Linked DNA regions of Homo sapiens. The protein of the gene in region 4 interacts with the protein of the main gene of each other region in a pairwise test. Each region holds a gene or a part of one and is shown on either strand. Other genes may lie near its edges. The genes, in order: VENTX, TOLLIP, STK16 and USP54.

What was found.
Region 1: the proteins of USP54 (region 4) and VENTX interact in binary tests that used the Homo sapiens proteins (3 or more experiments, as listed by UniProt).
Region 2: the proteins of USP54 (region 4) and TOLLIP interact in binary tests that used the Homo sapiens proteins (3 or more experiments, as listed by UniProt).
Region 3: the proteins of USP54 (region 4) and STK16 interact in binary tests that used the Homo sapiens proteins (3 or more experiments, as listed by UniProt).

What each region holds. Positions count from the first base shown.
Region 1 is NC_000010.11:133,232,662-133,240,854, forward strand, and holds the start of VENTX (homeobox protein VENTX), read left to right. Parts: upstream 1-5,193; 5' UTR 5,194-5,253; coding exon 5,254-5,494; intron 5,495-7,014; coding exon 7,015-7,175; intron 7,176-7,270; coding exon 7,271-7,645; 3' UTR 7,646-8,193. UniProt on the Homo sapiens protein: May be involved in ventralization.
Region 2 is NC_000011.10:1,299,630-1,307,198, reverse strand, and holds part of TOLLIP (toll-interacting protein), read left to right. Parts: intron 1-4,408; exon of another isoform or gene 4,409-4,615; intron 4,616-7,186; exon of another isoform or gene 7,187-7,321; intron 7,322-7,569. UniProt on the Homo sapiens protein: Component of the signaling pathway of IL-1 and Toll-like receptors. Inhibits cell activation by microbial products. Recruits IRAK1 to the IL-1 receptor complex. Inhibits IRAK1 phosphorylation and kinase activity.
Region 3 is NC_000002.12:219,240,429-219,248,906, forward strand, and holds the start of STK16 (serine/threonine-protein kinase 16), read left to right. Parts: upstream 1-5,050; 5' UTR 5,051-5,368; intron 5,369-5,467; 5' UTR 5,468-5,571; coding exon 5,572-5,657; intron 5,658-6,228; coding exon 6,229-6,448; intron 6,449-6,684; coding exon 6,685-6,818; intron 6,819-6,986; coding exon 6,987-7,107; intron 7,108-7,233; coding exon 7,234-7,329; intron 7,330-7,764; coding exon 7,765-7,886; intron 7,887-7,992; coding exon 7,993-8,131; 3' UTR 8,132-8,478. Other genes in the region: GLB1L (beta-galactosidase-1-like protein isoform 1 precursor), read right to left, coding at 2,086-2,146, 2,340-2,490, 2,720-2,886, 3,074-3,145. UniProt on the Homo sapiens protein: Membrane-associated protein kinase that phosphorylates on serine and threonine residues. In vitro substrates include DRG1, ENO1 and EIF4EBP1. Also autophosphorylates. May be involved in secretory vesicle trafficking or intracellular signaling.
Region 4 is NC_000010.11:73,588,080-73,595,512, forward strand, and holds the start of USP54 (ubiquitin carboxyl-terminal hydrolase 54), read right to left. Parts: upstream 3,264-7,433; 5' UTR 3,199-3,263; intron 1-3,198.

The DNA.
Region 1 (8,193 bases), about 60 Mb from region 4:
GGACGCTGTGGCTCACGCCTGTAATCCTAACACTTTGGGAGGCTGAGGTGGGTGGATTGCCTGAGCTCGCTCAGGAGTTCGAGACCAGCCTGGGCAACATGGTGAAACCCCATCTCTACTAAAAATACAAAAATTAGCCGGGTGTGGTGGCGGGTGCCTGTAGTCCCAGTTACTCGGGAGGCTGAGGCAGGAGAAGTGCTGAACCCAGGAGGCGGAGGTTGCAGTGAGCCAAGATTGCGCCACTGCACACCAGCCTGGGCAACAGAGACTCTGTCTCAAAAAACAAAAAAACACTCTGAAGGCAGACGCGGTGGCTCACGCCTGTAATCCCAGGTCTTTGGGAGGCCAGAGGCGGGCAGATCACAAACGAGGTCAGGAGTTTGAGACCAGCCTAACCAACATGGTAAAACCCCATCTCTACTAAAAATGCAAAAATTAGGCATGGTGGCGTGAGCCTGTAATCCCAGCTACTCGGGAGGCTGAGGCAGGAGGAGGCAGGAGAATCGCTTGAACCTGGGAAGTGGAGGTTGTGCACTGCACTCCAGCCTGGGTGACAGAGCGAGACTCCGTCTCAAAAAAAAAAAAAAAAAATAGACACCCTAGGCCAGGCTAGGTGGCTCACGCCTATAATATCAACACTTTGGGAGGCCTGGGCGGAAAGATCACTTTGAGCTCAGGCATTCCAAACCAGCATGGGCAACATGGTGAGACCCCGTCTCACATCAGCTCCACCCTGCTGTGTTTCCTGAGAATCTTCAAGCTGCTAAAAGCCTGTTGGATGAGCCAAGCTTGCAAACATTCCCCCTCACATACACAGCCCCCAAAGGTCAGAGTCACAGGCTGAGGCCACAGTGGGGTCTGAAACAGAGCTTAGGTGCACCCTACATGACCCTGTCGCTCCAGAAGGTTACTGCTGACAGCAAGCCCAGGTCCAGACAGCCACATCCCAGCAAACACACCAGCACCCTAAGGGTGGGGGCTGTGCCGCTCTATCACTCGGGTTACTGGACACTCGGCCCTGGAGGAAGGACCCATCTCTGGGCTGGAGCAATTTAGGGGCACCAAGCAGAATTAATCTGCCTTCCTACTCAGGTAGTGGGGCAGGGGCCACGTGCTATGATCCTCCTGAGCCCGGTATCAGAATAATGAATCTGAATACATGGGCCCCGGACCTCTAATGCTTTCTAATCTGGTGCAGAGAGTGTATTTTGGCTGTTTAAATCAATCTAGGGGCCAGATGCGGTGGCTCATGCCTGTAATACCAGCACTTTGGGAGGCTGAGGCAGGAGAATTACTTGAGCTCAGGAGTTTGAGACCAGCCTGGCCAACATGATAAAATCCCATCTCTACAAAATACACAAAAATTAACTGGACATGGTGGCACGCACCTGCAGTCCCAGCTTCACTGGAGGCTCAGGCAGGAGGATCACTTGGGCCCTGGAGATCGAGGCTGCAGTGAGCTGTGATCACATGAGGCGCTCCGGCCTGGGCAACAGTGAAAGCCTGTCTCCAAAATAAGTAAGGCGCTCTGTAGGCATGGCAGGATTAGCCTCCTGTGTGCTGTTTAATGGGGCCAGTGTCTGAGCACAGTTGGTTTAGCGTTACCTTTTTTTTTTTAGATGGAGTCTGGCTCTTGTTGCCCAGGCTGGAGTGCAATGGTGCGATCTTGGCTCACCACAACCTCCGCCTCCTGGATTCAAGCGATTCTCCTGTCTCAGCCTCCCGAATAGCTGGGATTACAGGCATGTATCACCACGCCTGGCTAATTTTGTATTTTAGTAGAGACAGGGTTTCACCATGCTGGTCAGGCTGGTCTCGAACTCCCAATCTCAGGTGACCCGACCACCTTGGCCTCCCGAAGTGCTGGGATTACAGGCGTGAGCTACCGCACCTGGCCGGCTTAGCGTTTCTTTATCGGCCATGCACCAGACCAGCCCCACTTCCTAGTGGACGTGTCGGGGAGCGGGGAACATGGGGGAGTCGGGGAGCGGGGAGTGTGGGGGAGTCGGGGAGGGGAGCGTGGGGGTGTCAGGGAAGGGGGCGTGGGGTGTCGGTGAGGGGGGCATGGAGGTGTCGGGGAGGGGGGCGTGGAGGTGTTGGGGAGCGGGGATCGTGGGGCGTCGGGGAAGGGGGCACGTGGGATGTCAGGGAGGCCGAGGCCACAGGGGTGGGTGTTGGGGAGGGGTTGGGGAATCTCTACAAACTTTTTTTAAAGTCTGGTTAATTGACGTGTAATTCACATACAGTAAAACTCACCATTTGTAGTGTACGGTTCTACGAATTTGTAAAAATACATATAGTTGTGCAACCAAAACCACAATTGAGTTACGGAACATTTCCATAACAACAAGAAACTTTTTTTGTGTCCCTTTATAGTCACCTGCTCCCTGACTCCCAGCCCTGGCAACCATTGATCTATTTTCTGTTCCTATAGTTTCGCTTTTTCTAGAGGGCCATATGAATGGAATCATACAATGTGCAGCCTTTTCAGCCGAGTCTCACTCTGTCGCCCAGGCTGGAGTGCAGGGGCACGATCTCGGCTCACTGCAACCTCCATCTCCCAGGTTCAAGAGATTCTCCTGCCTCAGCCTCCTGAGTAGCTGGCCTCCCCCTCAGGTGGTCCCAGAGTGCTCGGAGGAGGCTCGGGCGAGTCGCGACGGGGCCGGCAGCACGCGCTGGGCCCGGTGTCTGTCCTCAGGCCCTGGACTCGGGGGGAGCGCGTTTCGGGGACTAGCTGGACTCCGGGCTGTGCGTGGGGGCGGTGCTGTCGGCCTGGGAGTGACGCGGGACTTCCTGCCCAGCGCAACCCGGCCTGGCCCCCGAGGGTGGGGGACAGGGCGACGCCCGCGGGGACCACGCTCTGGGGCGTGCGGGGCGCAATTCACGGGGCTGGGCTGCCCCAGGGGCTGGGAGGAAGGAGGCAGGGGGGCGCCCAAGTCTCCTACCCATGGCAGCGCATCAGGGCGCGTCCCAGAGCCGGGGGTGGACGGAGGCTTGGAGGCGGAGGCTTTGGGGACCCCCAAGCCTGGGCTAGAGCAGCCTCGGCGGGCTCTAGAGGGAGGGTGGAGGGAGGGGCCCGGGCTGCAGGAGGCGGGGAGGCCTGAGCCACGGTGGTGGGGCCGCTGGGCAGGAGAGAGGGGCTGCCTGACCCTGCCGTGTGAAGGTGAGGTTGTCTTCGGGCTTGGGGGGATCGGAGGGGGCGGTTCAGGTGGAGGTGGTGGCGGGGGGCTGGGAAACCGGCAGGAGGGGCTCTATGTAGAGCTGGGGGTGGGGGTGCTGAACCACGTACAGAAGGGGGCTGAGACACCGGGGCCCTGGGCCCCGGAAATTAGAAATGGAGAAATGGAAGGCTGGGTGCTGGCGTTTCGGAAATGCATGCTCGTGGTGTTCCTCTTTATGTAAGGGAAGCTTCTGGGCCTTTTCCCTGCCTGTCGAACGTTCTGTATGTTTTTGCGGGATGTGTGAGGTGTGCTGTCTTGCTCCACTTTGAGGCACCGCCCCCACTGCGGGAGTGCTGGGGACCTGCCCCATGGGGCATCCTCGGGGCCAGCCCTGTGGCCACAGGCATCTGGGCCCTCGCTGCCCCTGGCCGGGACACACTGCCGGTCCTGTGCAGTGGCTCAAAGCCCCTCTACCGGGGGTGACCCGGTCTCTCCGGAGATGAAGTGCAGCGGGGGTCTAGGCCGGCTTCCTGGCCCCCCACCCCTCCTGGCTTTACCCCCGAGGCCACGTCCAAAGCCCCCAGCGCCCCACCCCCGCCAGCCTCCCCCTTGAGGGCCCAGTGACCTAACTGGGCCGGCAGGGTCCGAGGAAGACCAGGGTCAGCGGCGGCACGGTCCGTTCCGCGACCCCTCTCCTGTGACCCCAGGTAGGCCGCCGATCGGTTCCCGGCTGAGGTCCCGCCCCAGCGCCCGCCTCCCGGGCTCCAACCTCTTTGCTCAGCCCGGGAGGCTCGGCTGGCTGGGGCGGGCGTAACCGTGGGGCGAGGCCCGCCGGTCTTTCTGATTTCCGCGGGCGGCGTGGGCGCTGAGGCAGCCGCGGTCAGGACCTGGCCGGGAGTCGGGGCTGCTCCGTGGACCCCGCGTCTGCGCCGAAACCCCGCATGGCTTCGGGGGCCGGACCTGCGCCTCCGCCTAACTCCGGCCGCCGGAGACGCCGTGCGGACCCCAAGCCAGTGCGCGGAAGACACCGTCCTACCCTCGGCATGGCTGCCTCCCACCCGGTCACGTCGGTCCCCGCGCCCCACGCCGACGCGCAGGCGACCCGGGGACGCGGAGACGCAGACAGCTCGGGACTCAGGTTCGTGGGAGCAGCGGCCGCGCGTGGCTATGACCGTCCCGGGGGCCCGTGCTCAGGGCGTCCCCGTGAGGTTTGGGCGCCACAGTCACCGGCGGCTCTGCCCGCGCCCTGGCCACAGTGGGGACAGCCTGGCTTGGCGGGGACGCACCAGTCCCGCCGCCGACGCGGAGTTCCTACCCCGCCGTGCGAGGCAGTGGCTCCGGCCCTTCCAGCTCGGGATGGAGTCAGGGAGCCGCCCGCGCCCGAATGCAGAGGCTCCTGCGATGGCCCCGGAGTGAGTCCCCCAGAGGAGCCGGATTAGGGCTGGAGGCGGCCGAGTCCCCCGAGAGGCCCCTCCCGACATTCCCGCCCCCGCGCGCCGCTCCCCGGGTCCTCCGCGTCTCTTTCCCGGGAAAGCCTCCCTCGGTTCCTGCGCGGCCGCACAGCCTGGACGCAGCGCACGCGGGCACCGGCCTGACTCTCCCACCCCGAAGCCTGCTCCCAACCTAAGTCCGCCCTGACTCTCCCAGCCTGAAGCCTGCTCGCCCTCGGGTGTCCGGGCTGGGCACAGGCGCCAGCGTCCCCCTGGAGAGGAGAGGTCGCCCGGCACCTCCCAGGACAGGCCCAAGTGGGAGTGGGACCCTCCTACCTTCCTGCAGCCTCGGCCCGCGGGGTGGGGGGTTGGGAGAGATGAAAGGAGGTGACCGATCCCGAACCATCGCCTCTCCATTAACCAGGGCCCGCAGCCCCGCCCCTCCCCCAGACATCGAGGAGCCGGGGAGGTGTGAACGGCCTCCTTTGTGCCTCTGAATCGAAGGCAATTAGGCGCTGCTTATCTGGGCATTAGCCGTGTATGCAAACCGGGCTCCCGCCCCCTCCTCCTGGGCTTATAAACGCCGCCGCCTGGCGAGGCCCGAGGTGGATCCTGCGCCTGGCCAGCCCCGCCTGGCCTTCCCTCCGGCCCACCTGGCCGCCATGCGCCTCTCCTCCTCCCCACCTCGTGGCCCGCAGCAGCTCTCCAGCTTTGGCTCCGTGGACTGGCTCTCCCAGAGCAGCTGCTCAGGGCCGACCCACACCCCCAGGCCTGCCGACTTCTCCCTGGGGAGCCTCCCTGGCCCAGGCCAGACATCCGGCGCCCGGGAGCCCCCTCAGGCCGTCAGCATCAAGGAGGCCGCCGGGTCCTCAAATCTGCCTGCGCCGGAGAGGACCATGGCCGGTAGGTCCGGGTGGGGGGGGTCCCTTCCTTCCCAGGTGGAGATGGGAGTGGGGGAGAGGCCAGGAGCCCGGCGGCTGCACTCCCCGCGGTGCCCTGCCCACTAGGTCAGGGCCGGGGGCGTTTCCATGAGGGCCGGCGGAGGCCTTGCCGGCGCCCTCACTGGAGCGCAGCTTCCCTCGGAACCAAAGCCTTGACGGGGATTTCCTCTCCTTGAGCCCCCGGTGGGCTCCTCTGCCTCCTTTTGTCACCCCGTTCCTCAGCTGTGTCTTCGTCCCCCACCCCGGCCTGGTGCCGAGGGACCGTCCAAGGGGTCCCCGTCCGCACCTCCCTGCCCTGATTCCGGGCGCTCACTGAAAGTCTCGATGATTTGCCAAGCCCCCCGCCCCCGCCCCCCAGCACAGCCGGTGCCTGCTCAGCGTCTAGGCTCAAGCCCATTCCGGGTCACCTGGAGCACAGCTGTCTTTAAAGAGCCTGCAGGTTCGCTGCAGGGGTGGCGGTGACCCCGATGCCTGCAGAAACTCTGAAGTTCCCTCTGTGGCCGCCCAGATGCTCTGTTGTCTGCTGAGAACAAAGGTTCTCTGCGTTTGTGTTTTAGTCTTTGTGACATCATCACCACTTTTAGGTTTAAGGTAGTACTTGGTCAAAAGTGGGGTTGACATCATCTACAAGTTTTCATTTTTAAAAATTTGACTGATCCTTATGGAGTGACTTTGTACTTAAGGGAAATGAAAATTTAAATGTATTCTCCCCAGCTAGCTATCCTGCCCCACCCCAAAAAAGCCAGCCATCCCTGTCCCGCAACCCCCTTTCTGATGCCAGTCCTACAGCCCTCCCTGCCAGAAGGCATTTGCTTTTTGGGTCTACCATGTGCTTTCAGGCTAACGTTAAGACAGATTTTGTAAAATACGCTTCCTTCCGCAGAAACTCCAGCGAGCATTTTGGTCAGACTTGCATTTAATGTCGAGCTCGATTGGCCACGTTGGCCTTTCCTGGGACCCAGACCCAGCTCCACAGACCACCTCGTGGGGCCGTTTGGTGCCAGCCCCCATTCCTTAACTTAGAAATTAGGAAACAGACTTGACCACAGTGGGCCTGGGGATTAACTGAGTTGGCCTCCGCTGGCTGAGGAGACGGAGCCCGGGACAGGGATGGGTGCCCCTGGGTGGGTCGCCAGGCCTTTGCATATAATGGATTCTTACCTTACCGGCCTGGAAGGCTGTGGGAAGGGCATCCTGGGAACCGGCTTCTGGAAGGGAAGTGTGGGATGGGGCGGAACTGAGTGGACTGAGCGGAGGGCAGGCCCAAGCTGCTGTTAACATTCCCTCCCCTCTTGAGCCCCCTCTCTGAGCCCCCTTTCCGCATGTGACCTGGGAGGCGGCGGGGGTGCTGCTGGTCACTGTCAGGTGAGAAGATCTGCCCTGCCCAGCCCCCAGCATGGCTGTCTTCACCTGTTACCCGTGGGCACGAGCTTGCCCCATGGGGTGGCATGTTGAGCCAAATGCCCTTACCCTCTATGTCAGGGTTGAGTAAGGAGCCAAATACCTTGCGGGCCCCCCGTGTCCGCACAGCCTTCACCATGGAGCAGGTCCGCACCTTGGAGGGCGTCTTCCAGCACCACCAGTACCTGAGCCCTCTGGAGCGGAAGAGGCTGGCCAGGGAGATGCAGCTCTCAGAGGTCCAGGTGAGGTGGGCCGGGCAGGCTGGGGTGGGCAGGGGTGGGCAAGGGTGGGCTGGTGGCCTAGTCTCACCCCTGTTCTGATCTTGCTTTTCCTACAGATAAAAACCTGGTTTCAGAATCGCCGCATGAAACACAAACGGCAAATGCAGGACCCCCAGCTGCACAGCCCCTTCTCGGGGTCTCTCCATGCGCCCCCAGCTTTCTACTCAACGTCTTCTGGCCTTGCCAATGGCCTGCAGCTGCTGTGCCCTTGGGCACCCCTGTCCGGGCCCCAGGCTCTGATGCTGCCCCCTGGCTCCTTCTGGGGTCTCTGCCAAGTGGCACAAGAGGCCCTGGCATCTGCGGGAGCTTCCTGCTGCGGGCAGCCTCTGGCGTCCCACCCCCCTACCCCAGGCCGGCCTTCGCTGGGACCAGCCCTGTCCACGGGGCCCCGGGGCCTGTGTGCTATGCCACAGACGGGGGATGCATTTTGAGGAGGCACCTCTGACTCCCACACTCGCGGTCTTGCTGATCGCACCTGGCTCCTACCTGGAGGACTCAGTTGTTCTGTTTACATCCTGGTGGCACCTCTCACCCTGACCCACACAAAGGTTCTGGAGATTACTGGAGAATATATATAAATATATATATGTACGTATATATGTAAATACACATATACGTATATATAAATATATATATACATATGTGTGTGTATATATATATATATTTTTTTTTTTTTTTTTTTTTTTGAGACGGAGTGTTGCTCTGTCACCCAGGCTGGAGTGCAATGACGCAATCTCGGCTCACTGCAACCTCCGCCTCCTGGGTTCAAGCGATTCTCCAGCCTCAGCCTCCCGAGTAGCTGGGATTACAGACACCCGCCACCACGCCCGGCTAATTTTTTCTATTTTTAGTAGAAATGGGGTTTCACCATGTTAGCCAGGCTGGTCTCAAACTCCTGACCCTGTGATCCGCCCGCCTCGGCCTCCCAAAGTGCTGGGATTACAGGCATGAGCCACTGCACCCGGCCCTGAGAATATAT
Region 2 (7,569 bases), on a different chromosome or scaffold from region 4:
GTTGTCAGCGACGGGGGTCTCAGGTGTTGCTTGGAGTACATGTGACTTAATCAACCAGCGCTACCAACTGTGGCGTTCAGGATGGCCATGATGCAGGGGACAACCAGGTGGTTCCTGCCACTGGGGTCTTCCAGGGCAGCACGGTAGACATGGCAGCACATAAGGACAGCTGAGCTGTGTGGTGACGGCCCGGTGGGTCTGTGATCTTAAGCGTCAGGTGCTGGGAGAGTTTGTAAATGGGCCTCACCAGGGCTGGGTGTTGGGGTGAGGACGTGACATCTCTCGGAGGAGGAATGGGAGTAGGGGTTGGGCTGGGAGGGCAGGGCACGGAAAGAGAGGTGTGGGGTCTGGAGGTGGAGAGGAGGGAGCCCCAGGGGCCGAGGATGGAGGGAGGCAGGAGCTGGAGGCCGCCGGAGGGTCCTGGGCACAGGAGGACTGGACTTGCCCTGGAGTTTACCGGCTCAGCGCAGCACTCTGTAAAGTGTTGCCTGGCACACGCAAGGCAGGGCCCGCCTTGGCACCAGCCTGCTTCGCTGAGCATGACCCACCCCAGCCCCTCTGAATTAACCCATAGTGGGCCTTTACCCAGTTACTAGCACCTAGAGGAGCCCTGCTTTTGCAGGATGTCTTGACACAGTATTTATCATGTCCTCTTTCTGTTACACCTGTGGTGCCAGAGAGGCAGGAGGTTAAGCAGGGCGCTCGCTCAGCTTTCCAGCAGAAAGAGATGCTCCCCAGGGTCCGGGGGCAGGACTCTGGCTCGGGAGACCCTGACTGTGGTCTAGCCGTTGCCTCCCCCTAGTGATAAGGGGAGACGGCAAGATCCCATGGGCCGTGAAGGAGCAGAGGGGCCGCTAATGGGGTCCTGGGAGGGTTCTTTTGTCCTTGGGTAGAGGGAGCTTCAGGGGCCCGGGTGGGTAGGTGTGGAGAGGACGTGTGAAGCTAGCCAGCCCGACATCGTTCTGAGAGAATCATACCGTGTTTAGATCTTCAGGATAATGGTTCCCTGAATAGCCACTAAGGGATGCTTCAGCCCTGTGCAGTGCTTCCCTCACGTTTCAAAAAGGCCAGTATTTTGGAAAGATAACCTTTTTTCAATATAGTCTGCATATTATCAGAAAGCATGGGTGAGTACCTGCAAGGAGTACCATGTGGACCCCTGCGAGGGGTACCGTGGGGGCCCCTGCGAGGGGTACTGTGTGGACCCCTGTGAGGAGTATCATGGGGGCCCCTGCGAGGGGTACCGTGCGGGCCCCCGCGAGGAGTATCGAGGAGTACCGTGTGGACCCCTGCCTTCTGCAGTGAGATCTCGGGACGTTTGCGGGAGACTCCGCTGCAGCCACCGCGGTGCCGTCAGAGAGGCCTCCTTGGTAGAGGTGGGTGCGCTGTGCCGTGTCCAGGCTGCTCTGACTCCTTGTCCTGCTTCTGGAGGTGCTGGTTGGCCATGGAGTCCAGCTGGAGGCGGCCTGGCCCCTCCCTTCCTCCCTGAGAGGCCTGTTCCTGTCCAGGTCCCCTCACTCTTCACATCGTTGATAATTCCTGCCGAATCGGTGACTTCATTAGGGATGGCAGAGGGTAGTTTCTGAACTTTATCACTTCTTCGGTGTTTATTAACTGGGATTGTTTGTAAAGATTAGCTTTCCCCATCAACCGGTGTCGGCTGGCTGTCCTGAAACACAATTCGTGAAAGAAAGGCAAGTGAGATGCTTTTCCCTCATCTTCCCGTACCTCAAGGAGAGAGTTGCTTTTCTTTGTAGATGTGTGTGGGCTTTCTCTCCCCTGAGTGTTGTGAAGAGCCCGTGGATTTTCCTGCATCCTGTGTGTCTGAGCCAGTGGCACTTACCCGTCTCCGCTGGCTCTGGTGGGCTGCTCCTGGGAGGGCGTCCGTTCCTGCTGACTGCACCTGAGCCAGCGGGGAACGCACTCACCGCCTCCTCACGAGTCCTTTCTCTCTGGGTTCCTGTGAACCTTTGCGCTGGATTTTTTAGGCCGGGTTGTGAGTCTGTACAGGTGTGGAATTGCTGTGCTTGCCTGGAAATCACATCTTTTCACTGTGTGGGGACCCACGGGCCTCTTGGAAGATAAAGGCCTCTTGCCTTTGATTATTTTGTCTGATACTGGCATGGCCACCCCAGCTGTCTTTTAGAGAGTATTCACCTAGTACTTTTTCCTTCTATGATTTTACATTTTTCTGAAAACTTTTGTTTAAGACACGTGCACCATCGATAGCACGTAGCTGGATTTTTAAAAAGTCAAATCTAAGAAGACTAAGTCTTTTGATGGGAATGCGCTAGTTTCATCTTTCTAGTTAAGAGATGCCTAGATGGATACACAGATTTACAGATTTTTTACATGTTTTCTTTGGTGCTTTTATTTGTCCTACATTTTCTTATTTTTTTTCTCTCATTGCCTTTTGAATTTATTAAATGGAGTTTTAAAAAATTCAGTTGTTTTATCTCAAGTACATACACACTGTGCTGGGAAAGTACAGGGGCTCCCCTGGAAATGGTAACATGCACTTATCAGCTTCTGCCATGAGGGAGTCTCTGAGTGAACTCTGGCTCCGGAGGCTGCCCGGCTAAAGAATAAATAAAGAAGAAGTTAATCATTGTCTGTGCCACCTCCGGATCCACGCGGAGACCTCGGCCGCCCCGTCCTGGCGCGGGTGCTGCTGTGCCTTGTGTGGGTGCTACCTCCCCTTGGGGCTCCCGCAGGAATGTGTTACTTCTCTCGAGTCAGCGCTTGTTTAGATTTCCTTCTGTGTTTCTCTTTTCTTATCCCTTCTGGTGTCTCGGGCCTTCCATTTGGGGTCACTTTCCTTTAGCTTCAGGTTCATCTAGAATTTTCCTTGCTGGCAAACTTGATTTTTGCTTGTACATGCCTTTTCTCTGTGTCCTGACAGCTATTTTTGTGTGTGTGGAACTCCAGGTGGGCGGTACTCCAGGTGGACAGTACTCCCGGTGGACGGTCACTTGTCCTCAGTGCCTCGAAGGTGGGACCCCGCCCTCTCCTGGCTCCTGGAGTGGCTGCTGAGCAGCCCGGGAGTGGATGTCCCTTCCTCCGGCTTTCCTTCGTTTTTGGCCCTCTGTTTGCTGCCTTCTGAATACGCTGCTTCTGGCCTGCCTCCCAGTTCACTTGAGGTCTTTTTTTTTTTTTTTTTTTTTACATGGAGGCTCGCTCTGTAGCCCAGGCTGGAGTGCAGTGGCACAATCTCAACTCACTGCAACCTCTTCCTCCCAGGTTCAAGCGATTTTCCTGCCTCAGACTCCCGAGTAGCTGGGATTACAGGCGTCCACCACCACGCCCAGCTAATTTTTGTATTTTTAGTAGAGATGGGGTTTCACCATGTTGGCCAGGCTGTTCTCGAACTCCTGGTCTCAAGTGATCCGCCCACCTCAGCCTCCCAAAGTTTTGGGATTACAGGCGTGAGCCACTGCACCCGGCCCTAACCTCTGTTCATCTGGGCCTCTAACACTGTCCCTTGACCTGCCCGACAGGCCCCTGGTTAGGCCTGCTGTGCAAGTGTTTCCTGTCCCTGAGTCACTGTCTCCAGATCCTGCGGGCCCTGCCCTGGCACCGTGCTGGTGAGGCCTGCCTTGCTGCCCTGTGGGAAGTGCAGCGTGCCCCTGCCACCCGGCCTTGCCCTGTTTCTTTGCACAGCGCCTCCTGCCGTTAGCATACAGCATAACTCATGATGCTTCCCGTTTGTCTTCTTCCACTCACGTGTAAGCATCCCAGGAGCAGGGGTGCCCCAGCACCTCACCATGGAAGCCTCAGGCACACAGTGACACGCAGAGGCTGCCGCAGCGCGCGCCCTGTGCCCGGCGCCCAGGGCCTGCCACGTCACATGCCGTCCCTCTCTGGATCTCTGTCCGCCCTTGGCCTGCTGCTTGACTGGCTTTTGTTTCATCTGAATGAGAAGGGGTTTTCCGCCTCTGCCTTGCTTGACCGTCCCAGCACTTAGGATGCAAGGCTGCCTGCAGTGGAGTTCCTGGCAGAGACCCCATTTAAAGTCGCTTGTTCTGTAGTCAGCTTTTATAATCTATGCTTATTCTCATTCTGTCCTGTACTCTTCCCTTTCACCGCTCTTCAGCTTACACGGGTTCGTTTCAATACTGTCATCTCCCAGCTTCCCTTACACAAATTCTAGTGTTTGCTTTGAGACTTTAGCAGAGCCAGGGAACCTCCCGGCATGTTGGCTTTGAAGCGCCTGTTGTGTTTTGTATAATTAAAGGAAGAGGGGAGGGGGTGATAGGAAGAGGGAAGGAAAGCCCTGTCTGAGGAAGGCCCCGGAAGGGGAGACAAGGCACGGCGAATGAGTGCTCAGCGAGGGCTCCTGGGAGGGGGCTGCTGAGCGGCCGTGGGAGGAGGATGTGGGAACTGGGGACAAAGTCACCACTGCCCGTCCACACTGGCGTGGGAGCTGCCTTGCCAAGAGCAGTTGCATGAAATGCCACTTATTTGCTCAAGGGTTGTTTATTGAACATGCCAGTGCCAGGAGACTGGCGTGGAGCATGAGGCCGAGGCTGGCTGGAGTGGGTTTTGGGGAGTGTCAGGAGGCTGGTGTGGAGCGTGAGGCCGAGGCTGGCTGGAGTGCCAGGGGCTGCAGGGTCAGGTACTGGTCCAGCTTTTGGATGCTGGTGCTGTGAAGGGTGGTGGGTGAGGGAGCCAGCAGCTGAGTGGGCATGGGGAATTGCAGTTTTCCTTCTAGCCTTATTTTGGAAAATGCTAAACTTACAGGGCAATGGCAGTGGCCACCAGTGAGTGTCGGTGAGTCCTTCACCTCCACGGGGCTCCCCTCTTGGCCGTGAGTGTGCAGGCCTGGGGCATGTGCAGGCTGGCACTTCAGTCTCTGAAACCCTGCGCACTGAGGGGTCAGTCAGCTGGGCAGAGGGACCGCCAGGGCCACCCAGGGTCTGTCCTGACTGCCCACGGCCCTGTGTCTCAGCCCTGGTGCGCGTTCCCGCCCTCTTGCACGCCCGGATCTGGATGTGAATCACACAGGTGTGCGGGCATCGGGTGGATGGGCCATTTCTCCTGGGCCAGACTGAGCTCTGACCTGGGTGTGAACCTAGCAGCAGACATCCCCTGTAGGACAGTGGCCTGGAGCAGGCCCCTTGCAGGGCCTTCAAGGCAGGGCCAGCCCCTCAGACACAGCAGGGAGGCTGGTGATGACCTGGGCTCCAGGTTCTCAGCTTCATCTGGACCAACTGTGCTGTTCTATGTGAGTCCTGGGGCCCTGACCGAGTCTGGGGCTCCCTTCCTAGCAGACACTCAGACCTCGCCCAAGAGGCTTTGAGACTGACTTCCGCCCATATCCCTAGATGTTCCTACTACGGGGGATTTATTTCTCTCTGTTTCATTAGCTTCCTCTGTCCCTTTAGCCACGAGCCCAGCCCAGGTCTTCCTGCTGTGGGTCCCAGCTCTGAAAGTCACGTTGAATCATGGCCATGTTAGGAACTGGAGAAACCTAGGGCTCAGGGTACAGAGTTTCACTAGTTGGGCTTCTGTGTTGGGGCCTCCGTGGGCTGGCTTTGTGGCTTCAGGAGTCCTTGACGCTTGTTCTCAATGTGGGGGTGATATTGACCCTGAGAGGGCACAAGGGGTTCTTGGGGGAGGAAACTTCTGGGGTTTGGCGGCCGTGTGTGCCTCCCCAGCACAGCTCCTGGATTTCTTGCTCCTTAGTATTTCATTGTCCCTGGGTTTTCTGGGTGTCCCAGCACATGGATACGGAGTTCTCGGAAGCCCGCGACACATGTGCGATCTCAGACCTGCTGTGAGGTGGGTGGGGAGGGTGGGCAGGCGCCTGCGGATGCCGTTTGTGTGGGATCCTCAGTGCTGGTGTGAGACTCTGGCTTGGAGAATTGAATGAGAATCGTCGACATTTTGTGATTTAATTCCACAGAACGTATTTAGCCCATCGCTAATGATGTCAGTTTGCTGAAAGAATACCAGCCAGCCAGTTAAAAGGTACTTTCTCACATCAAGCAAAAGCTTCAGTTCACTAAGGATATTTTTTATTGTGTTTATATAAGTTGTTTATTTCTACGTGTGATTTGATACATTACAATTTATGTAAATAAATTACACTCAGCGCTGCTCAGCGCATAGTCATGAAGTGCTAGAAGCATTTTAGTTTTTAATTGAACTTCGTTCGACTTAGTTATGCTAACCTGGCGTTAGCGCTGAGACTCGTTGAGCCTTGCTTGCAGTGTTTACATGCCAAGTGCAGGTGCATGCGTGGCACACAGACACAAACAGCACCTCCACAGCCTCGCAGCGTCATGGGGTGGGAACGGTGAGAAGGTTTAAAAAGGCTCCGCAGGGGGCCAGTCATGGAAGTGGCCAGGAAACCCTGGTCTCCTGCCGCCTGCGTGTGGCCAGCCGTGCTTCAGGGGCGACTGTGGTGCGGCTCCTTGGGGTGATGTCTCCTGGCAGGCGTGAGGCCAGGACTGCATGTGTTCAGGACTCCACGTCCTGGGCTGAGCTGGGCTCTTCCGGGGCTCTGTCAAGGCAGAAAGTGTGGCCCAAGGAAGCAGCGGCACTCTCAGTCGGAAACGTATTCCTAACAGGTGTCGGGCAGAAAGTGTGGCCCAAGGAAGCAGCGGCTCTCTCCGTTGGAGACGTGTCACCAACAGGAATATTCACAGTGGGTGTTTAATTTGTGTGCTTAAAAAGAAAAATTAGCTTTGGATTGACTACACACATTGCATGACAAAAAAGAAGAATTAAGACTTTATTTCTGTGCCAAAACTAAAACTTAGACTTGAAGAGAAATTGTTTTAAATAGAAGTGAATGTTGGAGACCTCTTTTCTTTCGTGTGGAAAGGTACGCTGCAGTGGTTTAGAGCTCTGGCGTCAGTGAGGGAGGAATGGTCGTCAGTCACAGGCTTGCGTCGTGATCCTCTGAGAGCGGCACATGGGGGAGGAGAATCAGCAATTCCAAGAAATTTGAAGTTACATTTTAAAACTATATTTAAAACAGACTAATATTTATAAAAGTAGCTTTTATTTTCAGAGAAGATAAAATGCTGTGAGCTCTGTGGGATGAGAGCCCTACCCTGTCCTTTTTATTTTAAAAGTAATTCACGAATGTTTTTAAAAAGTTTCTAAAAATAACTAGCAGGATATAAAAGTATAAATAAATTGAAATAGAATCTTCCCTGCCTGTTTCCCTCGAGTTCCATTCCTGAATGCTCCTCCAGAGTTGGTGTCGACAGAGGCCTCCTTATGGCTCCCTGCAGCAGGTCGTGCCGCACCTCCGCCTCCGCCTCCGTCCCCCGAGTCTCCATGTGTTCGCGGCAGGGACCGCCGGCTCCTGGTGAGGCCGCGTGGCGATGCGCTGGGTGGATGTGCCTGGCTGGTGGACGGGGCGTTTTGACGGCACAGGTGACGCAGCCTCAGGCATCCTGTGCTCACGTGCCCGAGTGAGCATTGACAGGGGACTGGCTCCTGAAGTGGAATTGTTGGCCTTCACACGGGCATTTAGACTTGTTAGTGTTGAACTCAGTATGTGCATCTTGTACATGGAAGCAAAATTCTAGAAAAATATCCATTATGTATCGGGAG
Region 3 (8,478 bases), on a different chromosome or scaffold from region 4:
AAACCTTAAAATAGTGTTTCTTAAAAACAAATGGGCCGGGCGTGGCGGCTCACGCCTGTAATCCCAGCACTTTGGGAGGCGGAGGCAGGCAGATCACGAGGTCAAGAGATTGAGACCATCCTGGCCAACATGGTGAAACACTGTCTCTACTAAAAATACAAAAAAATTAGCTGGGCATGGTGGCGGGTGCCTGTAATCCCAGCTACTCAGGAGGCTGAGACAGGAGAATCGCTTGAACCCGGGAGGCAGAGGTTGCAGTGAGCCGAGACTGCACCACTGCACTCCAGCCTGGGCAACAAGAGCAAAACTCCATCTCAAAACAAACAAACAAAAATGGTGGTATATGGGGAGACTAAAATATAGAGGGGATGGCCGGGTGTGGTGGCTCACGCCTGTAATCCCAGCACTTTCTGAGGCCAAGGCAGGGGTGGATGACCTGAGGTCAGGAGTTTGAGACCCTCATGGCCAACATGGCAAAAACCTGTCTCTACTAAAAATACAAAAAATTAGCCGGGCAAGGTGGTAGGTGCCTGCAATCCCAATTACTCGGGAGGCTGAGGCAGGAGAATCACTTGAACCCAATCGGAGGTTGCAGTGAGCCAAGGTCACGTGACTGCACTCCAGCCTGGGCAACAGAGCAAGACTCCGTCTCAAAAAAAAATAACAATTATGCCGGGTGCGGCGGCTCACACCTGTAATCCCAGCACTTTGGGAGGCCAAGGCTGGCAGATCACGAGGTCAGGAGATCGAGACCATCCTGGCTAACACAGTGAAACCCCATCTCTACTAAAAATACAAAAAATAGCCGGGTGTGTTGGTGGGCACCTGTAGTCCCAGCTACTCAGGAGGCTGAGGCAGGAGAATGGCGTGAACCTGGGAGGTGGAGCTTGCAGTGAGCCGAGATTGCGCCACTGCACTCCAGCCTGGGTGATAGAGCGAGACTCCATCTCAAAAATAAAACAAAATAAAAATAATATATATATATGTGTGTGTGTGTGTGTGTGTGTGTGTGTGTATATATATATATATATATATATACATACATATATATGTATGTATAGAGAGAGCGAGAGAGAGACCAGGAAGGCCTCACCAAGGTGACTTCTGCAGGAGGCTTGTGATGAAGGAGCACCACATGCAAAGGCCTCAAAGCCCAAGGCCTGGTGGGTCTGAAGAACAGCAATGAGGCCACTGTGGCTGGAGCAGAGTGAACATGGGGGAGAAGAGCAATAATGTCGAGGAGGTGACTGGGGCCAATTGTGTAGGACCTACCACTTTAAGGAATTTATGGTTCATATTCTGAATGAGATGAGAACCTACTAGAGAGGTTTAAGCAGAGAAATGACAAGATCTGAGATGTATCTTTAAACTTATACTTGAACAGGATCACACTGGCTACTCTACTGAGAACAGATTGTATGGGGGAGAGGGCAAACAAGGGAAACCAGTTAGGAAGCTATAAAATAAGCCAGCTGAGAGAGATGGTTTGGACCAGGGTGGGGGCAATGGGGGTGATAAAAAGCACTTAAATTTAATGTTTGTCAAGATACAGCTGATAGGATTTTCTCTTTTTTGAGACAAAGTCTCTTCAATCTGTCACCCAGGCTGGAGTGTAGTTGTTCAATCTCGGCTCACTGCAACCTCTGACCCCCGGGCCCAAGTGATTCTCCTGCATCAGCCTCCCAAGTAGCTGGGATTACAGGTGCCCACCACCTCGCCCAGCCAATTTTTTGTATTTTTAGTAGAGATGGGATTTTGCCATGTTGGCCAGGTGGGTCTCAAACTCCTGACCTCAGGTCATGCACCCGCCTGGGCCTCTGAAAGTGCTGGGATCACAGGCATGAGCCACCGCGCCCAGCTGTTTTTTTTTTTTTTAATCAGTTTCTTCCACTATATTATAAGCTTTACGGCACAAGGATGGGGGTCTGTCTGGTCCCCCAGTTTCTAGCATCCTGCTGGGCATGAAGGAAACACTTGGTAAATGAATGATGACCTCCAATTTGGGAATGGTCTCTTCTGCTTTTGGCACCCAAATAGCCCATTTTACTTACTTGCTTCTGTGTTAAATCCTTTGTCTCAACTCACCTGGATCTGAGGTTCTTAGATGAATTTCAGGTTTTCGAAGCAACCAGGATGGGAGACCCCCCTGAGACAAACATAAAGAGAACAAAGAAGCATGTAGGTTTTGTTTTGGGGTGTGGTGGGGAAGCTAGGAAGGGAAGGAAGGAAGGGAAGGAATTGAATATAGTGCTGGAGATGGCCCTAGAGTGTGGGCAGATGGGAGTAGTCTAGGAACTGCACAAGGATAACTGGTTCTATCCCTTCTCCAGCTAACTCACCATCTCCCACTCTGCACAGATGTAAGGTCCTGGTCTCAGTATGACCAACAGGTTCGCTAGAGCTGCCTCATTCAGAAAGGCAATGAGGTCCCGGCTGCCATTAAAGTTATAGACCCCAGGCTGTGGCTCGTGGTAGTTCCAGGGCACATAACTGAGAAAGGAAGAGGTTAATAGGAACCAAGGTGAAGAGACGCCAGGGAGGCCTAACGGCTCAGGCCTTGCAGGGAATCTCCAGGAAGCGGTTGGAAGGAGGTCCTGGCCTGCCCTTTCCCACCCTTGGCCTAGGAGTCCTGGCAGTCTTCCTGTCCCGACCTTCTTTATAAGGGGGCGGTAGAAAAAGTAGATCCCATCCCTCCGCGGCTCTTGCGAGCACTTCTTACAACTGTATGGCGTTGAGGCCGCTCCATCGCATCTTCAAAAGCCGGTCGGCCCAAAGCACCCGCGGTACCCGAAAGTAGTGCAGGCTGCCAGACACATAGCGGAACGGGGCCCCGTCTAGGAGAAACCGGTCATGACCCCTATCCACTACGAACGACCGAGTGTCTGCCTATAAAGAGAAAGAGACGCTGCTCAGCAGACGCCTGGAGGGAGCGTCGAGGGTCAGCGCCTGCCAAGAGCGGAAGAGATGGAACTAGCCCTGCGGGTTGTTTGGTTGTTACTTTGGACTTTCTCTCATCCGCTGGATCTGATCCCGCTCACCGCACCCGGCAGGCTGGTTCACCGTCTCATCTTACCTGGGGCAGCAGTAGCGTCAGGCTGAGCGGCAGCAGCAGGGAACGAAGGCAGGACAGCTTCTTGGGAGCCATGGCGTTTACAGCGCTCCTCTAGTCTGAGACGGCGGACAGACCGTCACGTGTCGGATTCCTGGGAGGGAACCTCAGCGAGCAAGGGGGCGGAAACCACCTCAAGTTGCCAGGCGTTTAGCCTGGACTTCCTCTCCAGCCTGCAGCCACCCCCTTACTCTACTAGTTTGTAAAATTTCTACATCATGTTAAAGTGCAGTTCACGAACCAGCTTCATCGACATCACCTGGGAACTTGTTAGAAATGGAGAATCTGGCTGGGCACGATGGCTCACGCCTGTAATCCCAACACTTTGGGAGGCCGAGGCGGGTGGATCACTTGAGGTCAGGAGTTCAAGACCAGCTTGGCCAACAGGGCAAAACCCTGTCTCTACTAAAAATACAAAAATTAGCCGGGCCTGGTGGCACGCGCCTGTATTCCAAGCTACTCCGAGGGTGGGGGTGGGGGTGGGGGTGGGGGTGGGGGTAGGGGCTGAGGCAGGAGAATTGCTTGAACCCGGAAGGCGGAGGTTGCAGTGAACCGAGATCCTGCCACTGCACTCCAGCCTGGGCAACAGAGCGAGACTCTGTCTCAAAAAACACAAACAAACAAACAAAAGAAATGTAAAATCTCAGATCCTACCTCAGACCTATAGAATCAGAATTTGTATTTTAACAAGATTCCCAGGTGATCCTAGGCACCTTCAAAATTGAGAAGCATGGCTTTACTTGACTGGGCTCCCTGAGGACAGGGAGTGCCCTGTTCATCTCAAATCCTCAGCCTCTAGCACAGGGCCGGGTATATAGTAGGTTAAATCTGGATGAATCAATGTCATAACCAAAAGGCTAAAACAGGTTCAGAACCAGGGGAAACCATTGGAAAATCTTCAGGGTGATCCGGGGTGTGGAAGGGAGGAACCAGGTCACAAGAAGGACCTCTTTCCTGGAGAGTCCTGTTTCAGCAAAACAGCCATTCCCTCCTGGCCATTCCACCTTCTTTGGAAGTGCACCCCTCTCCAGCTTACCCCTGCCTGCCTCCGCAACAGATATTAAGGACAACTGCTTTGTGCCAAAGCTCGAAAATCTGTGAATTTCCGTTCCTTTTGCCTTTACAGTCTCAAGAATGGGATGTGAAGATCAGGGTAATAATAATTACGGTTTATTGACACGTACTGAAGGCTATGTGTCAGATATTGTATTAAACACTGTACATCTCATTTAATCTTCAACTCCATGAGGTAGATAATTATTTCCATTTTACAGAGGAGGAGAGGAAAGGACAGAAACATTAAGTAGCCTGTCCAAGGTCACACAACTACGTTAACGGAGCTGTCATTTGAACTAGTCAGTCTGGCCTCACAGTTAAGCTACTTAACCTTATGTACTATTATACCTATTTTACAGCTACCAAAAGTAAGGATCCGAGAGGTTAAGTAACTTGCCCGAGGTTACACAGCTAGCATGCTATTAACACTCAATTTAGAAACTGGAAGTCTGGTTCACAAGCCTGAGCTCTTAACCACTGAGACTAGGGGTAGTGGGATACAGGCCAGAGCCCAGAAGGTTGTACGGGATCAGGAGACCAGGCCACCAGACCCGCCCCTCACTGGATCCCCCTCCAGGCTGCAGTGTAGTTGGCCGCTTTCTGCCCCAGAGCGCCAGAGGTATGAAGCCTCCTACCTCCAACATTGGGAGATGGAGGTCCTGGGGGCCTCGGGCCGAGCCCGGCTTTGCTCCCCTTTGGCGTAGGTGCCTGCGTCTTGACCCCCACCGAAGGCCAAGTAGAGAACCCTCACCAGGGTCCTGGGACCCGTCCACCCCTACACCTAGCTAGCCCGGAGCCTCTCAGCTCCGCGTCCCCACATCCTCCGGATGCCCAGCGGTTGCTGAGATACCGCGGGCCGTTACGCCGGCGCGGACTGATGATGTCAGCACTGCTTCCGGTCGGTGGCGCTTCTCTCTGGCCCGAGCCAGGTCAGTCCGGCAGTGCAGATGGCCCATCCCGGGCTCTGGGCTCCTAGACCGGGGTGGGCCCTGCCAGGAGTGGGCCTGAGCCTCGCACGTCCTCTGAAACTACGCTATGCTCTGCTTTTGCGGCGCGATGGGCGTGGGAGCGGGGGCTGCCCAAAGATGGGCTGGGGTTGGAGGAAGTGGCCCGGTAGCCGCTGTGTGTCCTGAGGCCGTAAGGCGCCTGACCCCACCCCTGAAGCTGGCGACGGAGCAGGGCCTGTTTTCTCTACACTATAGTGTAGGTTCCAGAGACCTGGGCCTGAGCTCTCCGCATTGGTACTTCATGGGTCGTCTGGATTGTGCCGGACCTGTGACCCTGCCGTTGTTTTCTTTCCAGCATGATCCGCTGGGCCCCCAGCGCATCTCCTGGAAGAGCCCACTCACCCTGGACGAGCTCTTCGGTAGCCTCAGACCGTCCTTGAAGAGGATGACTGAGACATTATGGGCCACGCGCTGTGTGTCTGCTCTCGGGGAACTGTCATCATTGACAATAAGCGCTACCTCTTCATCCAGAAACTGGGGGAGGGGTGAGTGTTTGGAAGTCAGTTAACTAGTCCTCAAGTTTATGATCATTGAAGGACAGCGGTGTGCATATGCTTGGGGCACAAGGGTTTTATCCCTATCCCTGTCCTCTCTCACCTGACAGAACCTAGCTACACAGTATCAAGAAGGTGGATTCTGGAGCCAGGCCTGCTAAATCCACCTCGTGTGACCTTGATAAACCATGTTTTTTTCATCAGCTTAATGGAGATGATTATTATCCCTCACTGATGGAGTTGTGAGGATTAAATGAGATAATGTGTATAAAATGTCTCACCCAATGCGGGGTTGACAAGTACTTGATAAGTGTTGGCTATTATTTATTTAGCATCTGTCAAGTGCAGAGGTCTCTATTACGACCATAGGACCTCAAAGATTTCTATATCTCTGCTCCTGAGGAGCTCACGGTGTAATATTCTTCAGATTTCTCTTAGAGCCACATCTTGGGAAGGTTTCTGCTAAATGGGAAGGACACCCCACTCCCCACCAGGAAATTTCTCTAGGTCCAAGCCATGTGGGAGATGACCATGGCCCTTTATTGACCCCTTTGGCCCACAGTGGGTTCAGCTATGTGGACCTAGTGGAAGGGTTACATGATGGACACTTCTACGCCCTGAAGCGAATCCTGTGTCACGAGCAGCAGGACCGGGAGGAGGCCCAGCGAGAAGCCGACATGCATCGCCTCTTCAATCACCCCAACATCCTTCGCCTCGTGGCTTACTGTCTGAGGGAACGGGGTGCTAAGCATGAGGCCTGGCTGCTGCTACCATTCTTCAAGGTCAGAAAGACTCCTGGTTATGGAGGGGGTTGCAGCAGAGCCACCTACTCAAGGGCTGTGTGAGCAGTCCAGCATGTTAGGAAGCAGGGACCATGTCCTGGGTTTGGCCACTTTAGATTTTGAGTTTGAGGTGTGTATCATGAAAGGGCTGATAGGCTTTGACATAGGGAAGGGATCAGGCCTAAGGAGCAGAGGCTCCAAAAACATCTCCAACTGTAGGGAAACTTGTGTTGCAGAGAGGTACGCTGTGGAATGAGATAGAAAGGCTGAAGGACAAAGGCAACTTCCTGACCGAGGATCAAATCCTTTGGCTGCTGCTGGGGATCTGCAGAGGCCTTGAGGCCATTCATGCCAAGGGTTATGCCCACAGGTCAGTGGGAGGACCCTGTGTGCTTGCTGGGGCCCAGAGGAAGAGCCTCACCAGGAGACATGGGAGGTCTCTGTTCTCCCAAGAAACAGCCTGTATGATTCTTTTGCTTGCTGGGATTCCAGCCTTCCTGTCCAGAGATGCTCATAGGTCACTTCTACTTCTCTACAGAGACTTGAAGCCCACCAATATATTGCTTGGAGATGAGGGGCAGCCAGTTTTAATGGACTTGGGTTCCATGAATCAAGCATGCATCCATGTGGAGGGCTCCCGCCAGGCTCTGACCCTGCAGGTAAAAGAGTCTCCAGGTTCCTTTTCTCACCTGTTCCCCATTCCCACCCCTTCTGGTGCATGTCCCAGTTTGGTCACATGACCATGACCTGTGCCCCACTTTTGAGCTCTGGGATCACTGTTCCAGGACTGGGCAGCCCAGCGGTGCACCATCTCCTACCGAGCCCCAGAGCTCTTCTCTGTGCAGAGTCACTGTGTCATCGATGAGCGGACTGATGTCTGGGTGAGGAGCATGTGGGTGGGTATCTGGGTAGGGAGGGCTGTGGCTCTGTACCCACCGTGGAGTAGAGTAGGTTGTTGGTTTCTGTTGCATGGGGCGCCAGGAACCACAATATGTCCCCATCCACTTCAACTTCCTTCCTGGGAAATGTCACTGATACTGTACCCAGTTGTACCGGATGTGGTATAATCTGTGCCCCTGAACAAGGTGAGTACAGCTCAGTGTCAGTAGTGAAGGCACTGGCTAAGCAGGGGCTAAGCTAAACAGGGGCTGCGGAGGCCTCCAGCTGACTGGCAGTTTCTCTGGACCCTGGTGGTGCCATGTGGCTGAGGTCAGCGTATTCTTTTTAGCTTATGGAGTCTCCTTTTACCACAGAAGTAAAGGGAGAGATGTCACCTCCACTGGTCCCCTTCTAGGGACTAATCAAGTTATGCTCAGTCCCTAGGCTGCGTGCTATATGCCATGATGTTTGGGGAAGGCCCTTATGACATGGTGTTCCAAAAGGGTGACAGTGTGGCCCTTGCTGTGCAGAACCAACTCAGCATCCCACAAAGCCCCAGGTGAGTGAGCAACGAATAGGGCATCAAGTGTTTCAGACTCCCCCCTGGTATTAGCTGAGTTGACAGATAGGTGTCATCCGGTCACCCTGGGCTCCTCCCTCCACAGGCATTCTTCAGCATTGCGGCAGCTCCTGAACTCGATGATGACCGTGGACCCGCATCAGCGTCCTCACATTCCTCTCCTCCTCAGTCAGCTGGAGGCGCTTCAGCCCCCAGCTCCTGGCCAACATACTACCCAAATCTGAAAAAGCAGCATGTTGAGAAGATGGCCCCTTGTGCCTTGGAAAGAGGTTCCCATCCCTCATTGGAATCACCACCCATTCCATCCAGGACTTCTCTTACACTTGGGGGTAGCGGGGTCAGGACAATCATCTCAGTCCTGCATCTTTTCTTCTGCTTTCTTCCCTCCAAGAGCAAAACCTGGGCAAGGGGACTTACTGAGTGGGGGTGGGTGGGGGTTGGGAAAAGGGAAACTGGTGGGATATGGAACATGGCTCTGAGCAGGACTGTTGAGCTCACATAGTGTTCTGACTCCAAATCTGGGAGCAGGAGAATGTGTAAACAAGAATAAAGTGGAAGCAGGTTGGTGTAG
Region 4 (7,433 bases):
ACACACACACATATAACTACTATAAAAATTTCAGGAGATTAAACTATAATTGATAGCATAAATCCCAAGGCCATATAAAAAATGGGGAAAAGTGTATCCTTTTTTTTTTCTTAAATGTATCCTTTGTTGTTGTTGTTTTTTGTTTTTGTTTTTGTTTTTTGAGACGGAGTCTCGCAGTCACCCAGGCTGGAGTACAGTGGCGTGATCTTGGCTCACCGCAACCTCCGCCTCGCAGACTCAAGCAATTCTCCTGTCTCAGCCTCCATCCATAGTGGCTGGGATTACAGGTGTGTGCCACCACGCCCAGCTAATTTTTGTATTTTTAGTAAAGATGGGGTTTCACCATGTTGGCCAGGCTGGTCTCAAACTCCTGACCTCAAGCGATCCGCCCACCTCAGCCTCCCAAAGTGCTGCGATTACAGGCGTGAGCCACCGCGCCCAGCCTGGGAAAAATGTATTCTAAAACCAGTGCATTCTCAATACAATTCACCCAGACTATTGCAGAAACTTTCTAACTATTCTTTCCTCTCTAATCCCATCTATACAATATTGCAAAAGCAAACTGATGAATCACAATTAGCTTAGAAAACTTCAGTGACAAAATACAGCCAAAACTCTGGCTTTGAATGGCCTTCCACAATCTTATCCCCTGCACATTTCCAACCTCATCTACCCTTAAAACATACAAAAAGATTTGTTCTGTGCACATGCCCAGTTACTTTGTTTTTTGTATTTCTCAATCAACGAATGCTCCTCCCATCTTCCCAGTCCTACCTAATACTAGCAATCTTTTCCACTGAGCAAACCTATTTGAAGAAGTCATACCACTGGCTACTTACAGTGATAGGAACTACTAATAGTCATACATCAGCAGGAAGGAGCAGTCATTTACATTAATTCATTTCCCAAATGATTGTCTTTTTAAATACCTCTCCACACCAACTGGGACTTCTCTCTCCCTCCCAGGAACATCATGAATCAATATTTAACCAGTATATCAATACTTTATTAGAATACAAGGTAGAAAGTTACATTGCCTTACACTCAACAAATGCTCATTCCTTGTTAAACAAATAAATGAAGAACTAAGTTTCATGAGACCAATCAAACTCACATTTTTCCGTTTAGAGATAACTCAGTTACAGGCATAACCAAACAGCTCTTTAGCTTGTCCCTGAATCTCCTGCCAAAATCATATCGCATCTAAATCATACCTTGCGCTTCCAAAAGGTCTACAGAAGAAAGATACTCTATTTTATGGTCAGTAGGACAAACGAAATGTTCTTTCTAAACCCTACTGCCAATAGTAGCAAACTAGTAATAGCAGTGGTTAAAGGAACAAAAATCAATAGCAATTTATTAGGCCCCTGGATAGCAAAACAATGAGTTCCAGAAAGTTACCCTATATAATAACCTTCTGATTTAATCATTTAGAACCAGAGATTTTTATCCCGAATTTTATGAATCACTAAGACTTTTTAAACACTTGATTCCATCAATGCATTATTTATTAATCATTATAAATATACCCGTACTCAAATTATTTCAGTACAAACAATAATGAAAGTATGACAGTGCTATCAACAAGAGGAAAAAAGGAGGGGAAGCAAACTGACAGCACTGGCTTGACTCATTTCTGTTGGGAGAACACTGGTACTGAATGGCACAAGCAACTCCAGTGTGAGAGAGCAAGCACATGACTGACTGGGAGGGCGACAGAGGATACCAAAGAAAGGAGAATATCTATAAAGAAGATTTCCTCTGTAGGGGCAGGAGGTGAAGGGATGAGAAGGAATGAAATCTACTCTAACAGCCTTTACAATACTCAAATGAAAACATGCTACCAGACTTCACACTTTGAGCCAGTTCACATCCTAGCTCTACCACTTACAATTGAGTGACCTTCAGCAGATTACTTATCCTCTTTCATCAGGTGTAAAATTATAATAATGGTAGCCCACTTAGTGAATACAAACTACATGTTTGGCACTGCGCTAGGCACTGGACACATGGTATATCCTCTAATTCTCACAATTAACCTGCCAAATAGTGATTATTTTTCTCACTTTGCAGGAAAGAAAACCCATGTTCTTTCTACCTATGTATAGCCGCTTTGTAGAGGGACAATACTACTACCTGGCCAGGTTGTACTGGGAATTAGAAGTAAATGCAAAGCACTTAGCAAGGACCCAGCACTTACCTCATATTAGGAGCTCAAGAAATCATTACTGTACGAATACAACCATCATTTGAATAAGTGCCTCAACTGAACAGCAATGAAATCCCAGAAACAAGTTTCCTCTCACATCATCTACCATAAAGATGACTTCTAACTAGCAGTAGTTTGGGAGAATCCAAAGCTCATCACTTATAACTGCTTGAAATACCAAAGTATCAACCATCCAGTATCCAAAAAAAAATTTTTTTTTAATACACACACAAATATTCTTAGAAGCTCAAAACACAAAACGCAAGGAAATAGCCCATTATGAAAGTGATATTTGACTCAATCTAAATATCAAATATTAAATATTTTACTTTCAAAAGGATCATAGGCCTCATGCCTCAAGGAAGCAGGTGCTAATGAACAAATTTATCTAACTTCCCAAAAATCATTCCCAGAAGCATCTGTTAACCTGAAGTACTTGGCAAACCATCTCTTAGAATTGACAACATATTGCCAAAATCTTAGTGGATTTTGCCAACACTATTCTGCTGATAGGAAAAAAGAATCATTCAGCTACTTTCCAATTTAGCCACAAAATAGGCTCTTTTTTCTTCATTACTACTTTAACCAGTATGTTAATACTGAAAATAGGTATAAAGAAATCACAAATAACCTTCTTCTGTTTGAAGGAAATTTAAAATACTAAATCCACAATTCTTGCCTTTAATTCTAAGGAACTCAAGAAAATCTATGAATTTTTTTTTTTTGGAAAAAATATGAAATCTCCAAAATCTAATAATTGTAACAGAGAGGAGGGGGAAAGAGCACAAACAACAGCTTGAAAGATGCCTCTTGAAAGTTGAGAGTCCTAAAATCTCAATTTCAAAGTTTAATCTACTGCTATTAAAAGAAATAGCTTATTAATCAGTGCTTGGGAATATTTTTTTTAAAAGAAAGAAAACTTCACAAAAACTAACCGGTTCCTGAATCTTCTATCTATCTGTTTTTACCACAACAACTACAATACTTACCAGACAGCACAGTCAACCTCCAGCAAAAGACCTCTAATCACGAGGGTATCTGTGGGGCAAGTGATACAAGAATGGGGAGGGATATGGGAATAGCTAGAGCTGTGGGGAGGGAAGGCTAGGAGGGAGGAGACGACTGTAGCTAGCAACAATGAGAAACTGTGAATCTAAACCACAAGGACTTCCCGCAGAACAGGATATCAGAGAGAAGGCAATTCTTTTTACCAACTACCAGGAACTCAGCACTGACAATTCATGACAAAGTTAAAAAGGTGGAGCTTCCAATTAAAAACAAAGTAAACTTAAGAAACTAACCAAAAGTAACTTGAAAGGACGTTATCACAAACTTCACCTGAGGCTTAAGAAAAACAATTATGAAGCTGTTTCCTGGGGCATTCCTGATGACAAAGGTCATTAAACAATAAGGTTTGCAGGGTGGCTGCTGCTTCCAAAGAAGGGCCAGTCCCCCACAAAAAAATTCCTTTGCACTGCAGTCAAAAGGAGCACGAGAAGACAACATTTTTGTAGTTGTTTACAGAATAATCAAAACAATGTTATTGTTGGAATCCCTAATTCAGAATTCCAAGACTGGGCTTAAATTAAATCAAATCATTTTAATAGGCAAAACTCCTCCAACTGTCTTAAACGAGCCACACTATTAAAGAAAATTATTATTTAAACTGAGCCATTGGAATCTACTGAGTCAATTTTAAAATGCTTGGGATCTAAGGGTTCTCAACCCCAAAGTCCACAACAGGGAAAGATCTCCACCCCTCTCTCGGGGAAGAGACCTAGTTACATCACCAAGAACAAACAGCAGGCAGAGTCCCACCCCCAAACATGTGATCAGTCAACCGAGAACTTGCATTTGCAGGCAGGGCACAAAGGCCCCAGAGGACCAACACACACCCTTCTATGTATTACCTGAGGTTATAAAACAGTTTTATTGAAAGAAGTTGTTTTATAAGCATACTGATGAAAAAAACTCATCAGCAGAATCCTTGCCAAATATGAAGGTCTGTTGTGTTTCTATAGGTTGAGAGAAAATATACGAGTTGACTAAAAAAAAGATGTAATTAAGATTTATTGGTAAAATTTAACAAACATGGGCAATGTCCAAAACTAATTAAGCTCTTACATTTTAACAATACAGTATATTAAATTGAAGTAGTCCTTTGGCCACAAGGAAAGTGCCACAAAAAAAAAAAAAAAAAAAAAGATACTGTTGCTTTTCTTGTTAACCATTAGCATTCTAACTCAGGTCTCCTAGTGGTGCTAGGTGGAGGAGGAGGTAGTAATGCCATTTCAAAGTGTGAAACACAAAATTTCTACTGATAAGTGCTGACTGCAAATAAAGACATACAAACATCAAGACCAAGCTCTTCAATCAAGTCATTAAAATATAGGTATATATTCATTGTGAAACTAATCAAATAAAACTAGAGTACTGGGACAGAGTTACAGAGCTTCAACCCTGATTACAACTAGACAACATTACTTTTCATGTCTCATCCAGGTAAGGGAAGTGATCCACAGGGAAATCTCACTCTAATAGATTGTAATCTCTCCAGAGGCCCCTCAGAAAACACCTCCCATAAAACTCTGCTATGATACTCACATTCTGCCTTGCATAAGTTATTTTCAGACATTTCTTATTCCCTCTTCAAGACTGCACAAGAGGTTCTGTGCCAAATAGAAAGAGAACCCTGTATCAACCACTGGGCTTCGCCATTCAAAATAAATTGGGTAACTACAAGTTTTTGTTAGGTGAGTGTCAAACTGCCTGTAGAAAAGGTTTTATAGGCCGGGTGCAGGGGCTCACGCCTGTAATCCCAGCATTTTGGGAGGCCATTGCGGGAGGATCATTTGAGCCCAGGAGTTCAAGACCAGCCTGGGCAACACAGGGAGGCCCCTTCTCTACAAAAAAAAAAAAGAAAGAAAGAAAGTTTTTAATTAGCCTGGTGTGGTGGCACGCACCTCTCTGGTCCCAGTTACTCCAGGCTGAGGTGGGAGGATCCCTTGAGCCCAGGAGGTCAAGGCCCCAGTGAGCAGTGATTGTGTCGCTGCACTCCAGTCTGGGCCACAGAGCAAGACCCTGTCTCAAAAAAAAAAAAAAAAAAGGAAAAATAAAAATAGAAAGAAAAGGTTTTGGGTACATGATTGCTAACTACGTCAAGAGGGAGAGTGATACATAGTGTTTCAGATTATTATTTTTTAAAATAGGGTTTTAGTTTAAATGTTCAGGTATTCTAAAGTTGGATGACTAGTTACAACAGTACTTTGTAAAACTGTGCTTCAACAAAACTTAACAAGTCATATTTTTCAAGTACTTTGCAGGGAATATGTAACACCACAATAGGTCCACCTTAGACCAGAATAGACAAAGGTCTCTGAAAAAATATAAATATTATTAGCAAGGAGAAACAATATTTAGGATTTGAGTAAATCAATCAAGAAAAATCCTTGGAGGGTAGTGGGGAGGGTAATGGAAAAGCACAGGCTGAAAAGTCCTATTTGGTCACATTCCGTAGCTTTTCATTATTGGTTTCTACTAGCAAATAGAGTAAGGTACAACAGAATGTTCAATGCATTGAAAGAACATTTTGCTTCTCTTAAAAGTCATAAAAGAGAAACAGAGGATTTCTCTAAGAAAAACCAAAATAACTCCCTCTGGAGTAACCCCAAAGTCAAACCATCATTGTCTTTTATTTCTGAGATGCTAATGATAATGCTGATGTCGGCAGTAAAGGCAGGAACTGAGTGGCTCCGCAGTAGGAACACGAGATTGGAAAATAAAAGACTCTTTTTTTTTTTGAGTCCAAGTCTTGCTCTGTCACCCAGGCTGGAGTGCAGTGACACGATCTCGGTTCACTGCAACCTCCACTTCCCAGGTTCAAGTGATTCTCCTGCTTCAGCCTCTTCAGTAGCTGGGATTACAGGTAGGTGCCACTACACCCAGCTAGTTTTTGTATTTTTAGTAGAGATGGGGCTTCACCATGTTGGCCAGACTGGTCTCGAACTCCTGACCTCAAGTGATCCACCTGACTCAGCCTCTCAAAGTGCTGGGATTACAGGTGTGAGCCACTGTGCCCAGCCAATAAAAGACTCTAGATTTTAGAATGTAGTGACAAAATTTGGGAACTTTTTAAGAGACAGGTTCTTCCTCTGTTGCCCAGGCTGGATGCAGTGGTGTGATCACAGCTCACTGAACCCTCAAATTCCTGGGTTCATGCAATCTTCTACCCTCAGCCTCCCGAGTAGCTGGGACTACAGGTGTGTACAACCAGACCCAGCTAATTTTTTAAAGATTTTTGGAGACAGGGTCTTAGTATGTTACCTAGGCTGAGACTTTTAAATAAACTGGAGGATTGGGGTGGGGAGGGGTGGGGAAGAGACTGCTTTATATCAAATGAAAGCCTTTATCATTTGATCCTGGGGAGAGGGGAAGCTTAATTCAGAGCTGTTAAACTGGAGTTCTAGCAAACAAAAATTAGAGACGGACTTGATCTTAGCTAATAAGGAACCTAAGAGAAAATATTCTAGCCTTTGACTCTAGGTTGTAAGGAAGAATATACCATGAAGTAGATGAAAAACAGGGAAAACTACATAACTAATTTGAGTCTAGTGGGTTTTTTTTTAACTTTTTTTTTTTAATCTTGGTTTTGTTTGAAGACAGAGTCTCACTCTGTCACCCAGGCTGGAGTATAGTGCCATAATCTCAGCTCACTGCAATCTCTGCCTCCCGGGTTCAAGTGATTCTCCTACCTCAGCCTCCAGAGTAGCTGGGATTACAGGTGCACACCACCACACCTGGCTAATTTTTGTATTTTGAGTAGAGATGGAGTTTCACCATGTTGGCGAGGCTGGTCTCAAACTCCTGACCTCAGGTGATCCACCCACCTCAGCCTCCCAAAGTGCTGGGATTACAGGCGTGAGCCACCAAGCCCCACTGGTGTTTTCTTTTAAAGACAGAGTCTCACTATGTTGCCCAGGCTGGAGTGCAGTGGCTAGTCACAGGTGCAATCCCTGTGCAATCAGAGGTGACTCTAGTTTTTATTCTGAGATTTATTCACAATGTTGGCAGAGCATGTGTACCTTAAAGAGCTGGTTGTTTCACTCAAGTATGCATTACTGAGAAGAGGAATATTGCAGAAAGGGTAGAGGGAAGAGAAAAAAACTGATCCAAAGAATACATTTTGGAGAAACTTTGGCTGTTAATCACAGACCTGAGCAGCAAA